Linked DNA regions of Homo sapiens: all the other regions are reported to be linked to region 2. The links are microRNA targets in miRTarBase. Many come from high-throughput screens and were not tested one by one. Region 2 holds a microRNA gene; each other region holds the end of a gene's coding sequence.
The links. Region 2 holds the annotated microRNA hsa-miR-548y (AAAAGUAAUCACUGUUUUUGCC, at 2,023-2,044, opposite strand). A microRNA usually pairs through its seed, bases 2 to 8, with sites in the 3' UTR of a target mRNA and lowers its output. Matches are read on the target gene's strand: a 7mer-m8 pairs with bases 2 to 8, a 7mer-A1 pairs with bases 2 to 7 and ends in A, and an 8mer does both.

Region 1: miRTarBase lists SYNCRIP as a target of hsa-miR-548y. The part of its 3' UTR that is shown has no 7-base or 8-base seed match.
Region 3: the mRNA of MSANTD4 is a reported target of hsa-miR-548y. Seed matches in the 3' UTR shown: 8mer at 1,830-1,837.

Annotation. Positions count from the first base shown.
Region 1 is chr6:85,612,313-85,615,312 of GRCh38, reverse strand. It overlaps SYNCRIP (synaptotagmin binding cytoplasmic RNA interacting protein), which reads left to right. Exons shown (of 11, transcript NM_006372.5): 11 at 1-1,337. The coding sequence ends at 557. Among named protein-coding and RNA genes, the nearest start is that of SNX14, 20 kb to the right of the region's middle.
Region 2 is chr14:47,759,039-47,762,397 of GRCh38, forward strand. It overlaps MIR548Y (microRNA 548y), which reads right to left and starts at 2,066; the gene lies at 1,957-2,066.
Region 3 is chr11:106,006,555-106,009,913 of GRCh38, reverse strand. It overlaps MSANTD4 (Myb/SANT DNA binding domain containing 4 with coiled-coils), which reads left to right. Exons shown (of 3, transcript NM_032424.3): 3 at 1-2,015. The coding sequence ends at 379. Among named protein-coding and RNA genes, the nearest start is that of MSANTD4, 14 kb to the left of the region's middle.

The DNA.
Region 1 (3,000 bases), not on the chromosome of region 2:
TGCCCCCTCCAACAAGAGGTCGAGGGCGTGGAGGTAGAGGTGGTTATGGATATCCTCCAGATTATTATGGATATGAAGATTATTATGATTATTATGGTTATGATTACCATAACTATCGTGGTGGATATGAAGATCCATACTATGGTTATGAAGATTTTCAAGTTGGAGCTAGAGGAAGGGGTGGTAGAGGAGCAAGGGGTGCTGCTCCATCCAGAGGTCGTGGGGCTGCTCCTCCCCGCGGTAGAGCCGGTTATTCACAGAGAGGAGGTCCTGGATCAGCAAGAGGCGTTCGAGGTGCGAGAGGAGGTGCCCAACAACAAAGAGGCCGCGGGGTACGTGGTGCGAGGGGTGGCCGCGGTGGAAATGTAGGAGGAAAGCGCAAAGCTGATGGGTACAACCAGCCAGATTCCAAGCGGCGCCAGACCAATAATCAGAACTGGGGCTCCCAACCCATTGCTCAGCAACCGCTCCAAGGTGGTGATCATTCTGGTAACTATGGTTACAAATCTGAAAACCAGGAGTTTTATCAGGATACTTTTGGGCAACAGTGGAAGTAGAAACAGTAGGGCCTCTGTAAAATTGGAGACTGATAGGTTGATCAGAAACTCACCCTAAATCTGAACGGGTGCCGCTATAATTTGTGACATCTGGCAAGATTTCCCTTTATGTATATATTTTAACAATCCGCTTGGACACGAACAAAGCCACACTTCTAACTGCTTCTGGCGAACTGATTTTATTTTTAATTTTTTTCAATAAAGATATTCTTAGATACTGAAAGAAATAGTTAATGAGTTTGCATTTGTGCTTGAGAAAATTTGGCTCAAGTCCATTTGGCTGTAGTGTCAACGATGTTTCCAGTAGTGTTTAGATTTGGTGTCTTCAAAGGTAGTTGATTAAAACCAAGTGTGTCTTTAATATCTTGTATCAGAATAACTTTGTATGTTACCAACTTAAATTGCTAGAATAAGGTAAATTGATACACAACTGCTATTTTTAATTTAGAACTTTGACCTAATTTGGGTTTTCAAAACCATTTTGGCTACTTGTATTCTTTATGCTGTTGTTTATTTCAATAAAAAATTCACACCTAAATGTATACTTACTAAAATTGTGTTTACAATTCGTTTTTCACAAAATTTCCTGCAAATTTGGTTCAAATTGTATAGCATGTCAAGGCCAATTAAAGGGTTTTGTGCCTTGTTAATTCTTGTGTGGAATATGTCTGCACATTACACAACACTGATTTATTGCAGTTTTCTGCTTCTGGTTTAAAGTGCTATTTTACAACAGACTTCATGTTCCCATCAAAAATAAAAAGATAATACATGTAGTAAGTTTAAGTTGGTAAGTATTTTAGAGTTCTTAATTGTGATGAATGAACTGTATAAAAGGACAAATTCAGGTAGTCTCAAAGGGTTTGCAGGTCACACTGACAAGTCCACTTTCAGTTGCCTAAAGTTTATCCTAACTAACCTAAAACTCAGATTGAGTATATTGCCCTCTTGACTGTTTTGCACACCATGGGACTAGAAAGCAGCAAAGAAACTCTAGTGTGAAAACAATGGGAATAGGTTTGGGTAATTTGTGAGTTGCACTCTAAATAATCACTGTACTTACCTAATTAAAAATAAAACAGCTTTACAGTTAGTTTTGGGTAAGCAAATATATATCTGAAGGATAAAATTTACCTCACAGACTGGTTTGTATTAAAGATCTAATAGTTTGGATTTTTGTTTCACATTTTAGTCTTGTTTTGGCCATATGGTCTATACTTCTAACAGTAATGATGGGAAAATGTTAGAGTTTTGGGGGACAGACTCTAGGTCAACAGTGAAAAGGTTTAACAGCCACTCCCCACTTCTGAACCTCCATCACCCTTGAATTTAAAGGTATTATACCTGACAATAAAGTTACATGTGAAAAATACATGACTTGAAAGACAAACTTTCTTAAAAATGTCACTAAATTTCAAATCTCAAGGTCAAACAAGTCTGAGATGTTTGCTTTCAGCATATTTTATGATTACTTCATGTCTCAAAAATGGGAATTACTTGCAAGTTAATGGGTAACTTTAAGGTGTGACTTCATTTAGGTTTCCTGTTAGTCTTTTTTTTTTTTTAAATAAAATCAGTTTGTGAACAAAATGGGGTTTTCAAACCTCAGTCCAGCCTCCTCACTCAAAGGGGCAAAAAAGCAACCAAAAACCTCAAAGCAAGTAAAAAACAAGCAAAAAGAAGTTCATAGTTATTAAAGGCAACTTTTTTGGCTAGACAGTATATTTAGAATTACCATGTTAAGGCTTGTCTTTTTAATGTTATCATTATGTATGTACACATTATTAATTTAAGATGATTTATCTAACTGATTCCTTTTGTTACCTGGCTAGCAGGGAAAAGGGGTCGAGGCCGGTCCTGACCTGTTACAATGAAGACTGACTTGCTATGTGGGATTACACCAGAAGCTTGCAGTGGAGTAATGGTAAGGAAATCAAGCAACCTTAAATATGTCGGCTGTATAGGAGCATATTCTATTGCAGAAGACCTTCCTATGAAGATCATGGAATCAAATACGGGACATTGAACTAATACTTGGACTTTGATATGAATTTCTTTAACAATTTTCTCTGCAGTGCAAGTTATTAAACTAAAGCTACTCTATTTTCAAAATGTGTTCCAACAGAAATCCTTCATAACTCCTAGCATGGTATCTTAATAAAGAATAAAGTTCTTTTAAAAATCTGCTCTAAGTAGATTTTTCCCCTTTTTTAAATTAAGGATCCCAACAGTGGTATTTTGAAATATTCTCTTGAATTTGTGCATTTAAATTTTATTGCAGTGGTATAGATGAATGCCACTGATGGTATCCTTAAATTTTATTTCTGCTCACCAAGGTTAATCATGATTGTCTATATCTTTTTTATAGTGATCACTTTTGAATTGTGTTCAGATATGCAGTTTCAGGTGTAATCATCAGAGCTGGTTAGTCAGGCATTCCAGA
Region 2 (3,359 bases):
GATCTTCTCTACATGGCTACTTGAGTGTCCTCAGAACACGGTAGCTAACTCCTCCCAAAATGAGAAAAATGGAAGACCAGAGAGGAGGCTGTAAACTTTTTAATGACCTAATTCTTACATCACACACTTTCACTTCAACAATATTCTATCTGTCATATATGTAAGTCCTATTAATTGTGGGATGGAATTAGATAGGAGTGTGAATACCAGGAGCCAATGTTTACTAGGAAAATATTGAATGTTGGTTACTACAGAGACTATGGTGGATTTGTATCATGCCAAATGAACTAAACTGGAATTGCATTCCCCAGAATTCCCCTCCAAGCATAGTTCTTTGGTATTAGTCCATTTTCACACTGACGATAAAGACATACCTGAGACTAGGCAATTTACAAAAGAAAGAAGTTTAACATGGACCTACAGTTCCATGTGGCTGGGGAAGCCTCACAATCACGGCAGAAGGAGCAAGTCATGTCTTACATGGATGGCTGCAGGCAAAGAAAGAGAGCACTTGTGCAGGGAAACTCCCCCTTGTAATACCATCAGATCTCATGAGACCCACCCAACACCATGGGAAAGACCTGCCCCCGTGATCCAGTTACTTTCCACCAGGTCCCTCACGTAACACTCGGGAATTCAAGATAAGATTTGGGTGGGGACACAGCCAAACCATATCATCTTTGTTAGTGAGGGCCATGAGAGATATTTTGTATGAGAGTTGGAAGGATGAAATGAAACAGCATCTATATTCTTTTTATTTTCAGAAAGTCAGCACTGGGCACATGGCACTGTTGTAGCTCACACAGGTGTCATTTATCTGTGGGATCACATTGTTGGAGTAGGGCAGTAGCTGGGCCCTCAGAAATGCCACAGCTGCCAGACACCCACTTTCAATCACTCTGACTTTCAGTGAGGTATGGTTTAGCTCATAGCAGCTCCTCCTGCAGATTACCCCAACTTTAAAGTTGGACACATGGAAGCAGGGTTGCAACTCTGTCCTGATAGATTCGGGTTTATTCTTGCAGGTACCAGTTTGTCTCGCTTCCCTCATTTTACGTCCATTTTATCTTTCAGACTGTGTGCGCTGATGACTTTAGGCTCAGCACTAGACACAGAAACAATAGTTTCACAAAGACTTTTCAACAGTTTCCACAAATATATAAGGCAAATCCCTATTACAAATCCCTTATTATACACAAATCTGGTGGTACTGCTTCTCAGATCAGACTCTGACATAGAGACTATAAAATAAGTAGCTTTAAATTGAATGAAGCAGGAAAGAGGAAATCAATTACTATAAGAGATAAGGTGACATAAAAAGCAGATATATTTGAAAAGAGGCCAAATAGAAGTTATAAAATGAAAAATATATTAAATAAGAAAAACCTTCTAATATATAGATTTATATATATATAATATATATAAATCCTGAACAGGATATGGGTGGCTTTGACAAAATTCCACATAAACAGTAGTTCAGATAAGATAGATGTTTATTTCTCTTTCTTTTTTTTTTTTTTTTTTGAGACAGAGTCTCGCTCGTCGCCCAGGCTGGAGTGCAGTGATGCATCTTGGCTCACTGCAAGCTCCGCCTTCCGGGTTCACGCCATTCTCCTGCCTCAGCCTCCGGAGTAGCTGGGACTACAGGTGCCCGACACCACGCCCAGCTAATTTTTTGTACTTTTGTTAGAGACGGGGTTTCACCGTGTTAGCCAGGATGGTCTCGACCTCCTGACCTCATGATCCGCCTGCCTCTGCCTCCCAAAGTGCTGGGATTACAGGCGTGAGCCACCACGCCCGGCCTATTTCTCTTTCATAAATTGTAAGCATTTCAGGACTTCGATGATAGATAAGACATTTCCACATTGTCAACAAACCAGATCCTTTATTGTAACTTCCTCAATTAGCTTTTTAATCAGAGTCCAGCTTGGATGCTCCACATCTGCCATGTCTGCACCCCCACAGTGAAGGTGTTACTAGGTTGGTGCAAAAGTAATCACGGTTTTTGCCACTGAGAGTAATGGCAAAAACAGTGATTACTTTTGCACCAACCTAATAGTTTAGGCTGCTGTCACAAACTACTATAGGCTGGTGGCTTAAACAACAAACAGTTGTTTCTCATAGTGCTGGAGGCTAGGAAGTTCAAGATAAAGGTGCTGGCAGATTATGTGTCTGTTGAGGCTCACTTCTTGGTTTATAGACTACCAAGATCTTATTTTCATATGAAGGGAAGAGAGCTAGCTACTCTATGGCCTCTTCTCATAAGAGCACTAATCCCATCCATGAGAGCACTAACAGTATTACTTCATCGACTCTGAAAGGTACCACCTCCAAACACTATCACATTGAGATGAGGGATTACGGTTTCAACATATGAATTTAGGGGGCCACAAACATACATTCCATTGTAGTGGGAAAGAAGAATGGGAAGACCTACTCTTTTCCTTTTAAAACTGTGATCCAAATGTTGTACATCAATTTCACGTATATACCATTTAACTGACCCAAAGTAGCTGCAAAAAGTGCTGAAAAATGTTATATTTAGGTAAATGGACACATATTCAGCTAAAAATAGCATTACTACACGAAATATATGGATATTGAGAAAGCAAATAATAGACTCCGACACGATGATTAAAAAGCAGATAATTCTCAACAGGCAATTAACAGAGAGAAAGAGCTGAGGATTTTACAGTTACTAAAAGCAAGTTTAAGAGATAAATAAGATAATAGATTAAAATGGGATAGATTCAATGAAAGAATAAGAGGGAATGAGATGGTAATGATGATTTTTTCAAAATCAATAGCATGAACCTAATATTTGAGAAGCACACTGGATCTGCTGCAAAATAAGATGAAATTACACACACACGCACAGACACACACACACACATACACACACACACACACACACACACACACACAGTGCTAAAACCAAAACCAAACACCCAAGACATAAAGATCTTCAGAATCAACATAAATAACTTATGAGGAAAACTACTAGCTTCTTTATAAAATCTACATTTCAATGCACTGCTGTGGTTGCAGGGAAATAAGTAAATCTCCAAGCACCCCTTAAATAAACAACCTAATAAACATGCAAAAAATGACCTGAATCCTGAGATAGAATCAAAGAACAGTGCGCTACCTGCAAGACACAAATGGGAAAGTTGGAGCTAGCCTGAGACAAGTGTTGAAATTAGCATTGTGTTCCAGAGACTAAGCTTGAGGGAGCTGATCCTGGAAACCTGGCATTATGTCAGCAAGCCTGGTCCCAGGTCTTACTACATCAAACTCCTAGCAGAGATAATTTCAAATTCTACCCTGGAGAAAAAGTTGACCCTAGGATACCTAAAGAT
Region 3 (3,359 bases), not on the chromosome of region 2:
TATCGAGGCCGAAAGGCTGCAGGTAGAAAAGGAACGCCTACAAATCGAGAAAGAGAGGCTGCGGCATTTAGACATGGAACATGAGCGGCTTCAGCTAGAGAAGGAGCGGCTGCAGATTGAAAGAGAAAAGTTGAGGTTACAGATAGTCAATTCAGAGAAACCGTCCTTGGAAAATGAACTTGGTCAAGGAGAAAAATCCATGCTTCAACCACAGGACATAGAAACAGAGAAGTTAAAACTTGAGCGAGAACGCTTGCAACTGGAAAAGGATAGGCTGCAGTTTTTGAAGTTTGAATCTGAGAAGCTGCAGATTGAAAAGGAACGCTTACAGGTAGAGAAAGACAGACTTCGAATTCAGAAAGAAGGACACTTGCAGTGATTTTTCCAGGCTTCCATTTAGCAAATGTTTGAAAACTCTAGATTTTTCTCATATCAGGTGATATAATGATGGTTGCTGGATTAGCTGTGGTTTCTTGTCTAATGTCAGTGTTCAGTAGGAAAAAGTTATATGTGGATAACTGTATGCCTAAGTAGTATATAAAAGCTGTGCCCTAGCGTAAACAGTATAGCAGAAACTTACTGTGCTGGACTCTTTACCTTATAATATTACATAGAGTCTTGTATTGTCTGTGTACCCAGAGTTTACAATTATGTCCATATAAAATTCTAGCCCAGAAGTTCTCATCTGGGGTAGATTTTGGCCTTCAGAAGACCAATTTGGTGATGTCTGGAGACATGTTGGGTTGTCAAAACTGGGGTGGGGAAAAGGTTGCTACTGTGCAATGCATACCTCCTCAACACCCCCCCACACTCAGTAAAGAATTTTCCAACCCAAAATATCATTAGTCCTGAGGTTGAGAAACCCTGTCCTAGCCTAACTGTGTACCTCTATAGCTATGTTTTATAGTTTTAGAATATTAAAACCTCAGATATTTATGTGGGTAGGTACTTAAATGGCCAAAAACTTTAACTATGAAATGTTACTGTGTAGTATATTGAATATAGGAAGTGATGAAGATTATAGGTATTTTATTCCCATGTTTCCATCTATAAATAGCCTTCTCAGATTCAGAAAACAATACAGAGAACATCAGAAATTTTCTAAAATGGGTCACTTTGAAAAGAATTCTTTTTCTCACTATTAATGCTTTAGAAGCAAGACGCAATTTTAAAGCTTTAGTTCCTTTTCTTTCAGTCATTGTCTTAGTTTGGGTACAAAAATGTCATTTCAGTAATGTACTGAAATCTTATAAGTGAATAGTTGAAGCTAGTAAAAATGATACCAGTATAAAAATGGTACTTGTAGTCCATGAGCTTGAACCCAATGACTGATTGTTTGACTTTTAAAATAAGTAATAGCAGCCATTTGGGAGTAGGGGGTAGGTGGGGAAGATGTACTCCGTATCAAATAATAATGATGTTGAAATAATGATAGTAGGTATGTATTATGGATTGGAGAAGCACTTATTACACTATCTAACCTAATATGTAGAACAATTCTTGAGAGTTGTATCTGTCGTTATTTCTGAATGTGAAGCTCAGAGAAGTGACACAGAGTAAATGGCTGATCTTCTATATTGTAGTATATTTTGTCCTTCCCTCTTCCCTGAGGAACAAAGCACGTATCTTTAGTCTCTTTGATATTTATTCTGAGACCAAGGGCTTGCTTGACCTGATGATTTTCCTTCAGCTCTCTGAAGGTGCTTTTTCCACAATCCAAGTGATTCTGATACACACTAAAGTTGAGAATCACTGCACTAGATCACTTTGTGTTTTCTGATTTTCAAGGTTGATACGTAGCTTTAATACAGCTCTTCTGTTGACAGTTATTACTTTAATTTTGCATTTGTTCCTTGTAAGAATGGCTGGAAACTGTGTGTTGACATTTGAGGATGGGTATGCAAGGAAAAAATATACTTCTGTTTACTTACTCTGACTTTGAAATAGTGTTATTTTTCTATATCTGAAATAAATGCTTCTACCATAGAAATAAATTTGCCTATACTATCTGAGAATTTGTAATTTCAGATGATACTCAGTGCTCTAAGGGTAGAGGTTATCAAGCTTAGAAGAGAGCCCTGTCACAGTCAGTGAGGACAGAGGCCTAAATAACATTTGGACTGGACATTGAGCTATGTATGCTGCATATGTTATTTGCTCCTCAAAAGAACCCTTGAGATCTAACTCAGGTGATACGGTTTAGCTCTTTCCTCACCCAAATCTCATCTTGAATTGTAGCTCCCATAATTCCCATGTGTTGTGGGAGGGACCCAGTGGAAAATAATTGAATCATGGGAGCAGTTTCCCCCACTGTTCTCATGGTAGTGAATAAGTAAGTCTCACAAGATCTGATGGTTTTATAAGAGGAAACCCCTTTCTCTTGGTTCTCATTTTCTCTCTTGCCTGTGTCCATGTAAGACATGCCTTTCACCTTTTGCCATGGTTATGAGGCCTCCCCAGCCACGTGGAACTGTGAGTCCATTAAACCTTTTTCTTTATAAATTACCCAGTCTTGGGTATGTCTTTGTCAGCAGCATGAAAGCGGACTAATACATCATGTTATCTCCACTTTTATGACAGCAACAACAAAAAAAAGCCTCATCGATTTAATTAACCATCTTTCTTAAAAATTACATACTAATATTGACCCAAGTTTTTAGCATAAGAGCTCTAAGGAAAAGGAATGGTGAAAGTTTGTAGGTATAGTTATAAGTATTGTAGCTTTGCCATTTGCTATTTGCGAAAGGCATTTAACTTGCTCTTCAATTTGGTTTCATCTGTAACTGGGGCATGATACCTACTCTGCCTGTGCTACATAGTTTTTTTTGTTTTGTTTTGTTTTTTTAAAGAAAATGGTAGAAGTATATAAACTATAAAATGCTACTTAAATGAAAGATGGTATTAATGTTGGATTTGAGATCCAGGGTTTTTTGAGATGGAATTTCACTTTGTCACCAAGGCTACAGTGCAGTGGCGCAGTCTTGGCTCACTGCACCTCCACCTCCCAAGTTCAAGCGATTATCCTGCCTCAGCCTCCTGAGTAGCTGGGACTACAGGCAAGCACCACCACCACCACCGCACCAGGTGAATTTTTTTGTTTGTTTGTTTGTTTTGAGACAGAGTCTTACTCTGTCACCCAGGCTGGAGTGCAGTGGCGCGATCTCAGCTCACTGCAAGCTCCACCTCCCGGGTTCACGCTATTCTCCTGCCTCAGCCTCCTGAGTTGCTGAGACTACAGGCACCCACTACCACACCCCACTAATTTTTTGTATTTTTAGTGTAGACGGAGTTTCACCATGCTAGCCAGGATGCTCTCAATCTCCTGATCTCGTGATCCACCCGTCTTGGCCTCCCAAAGC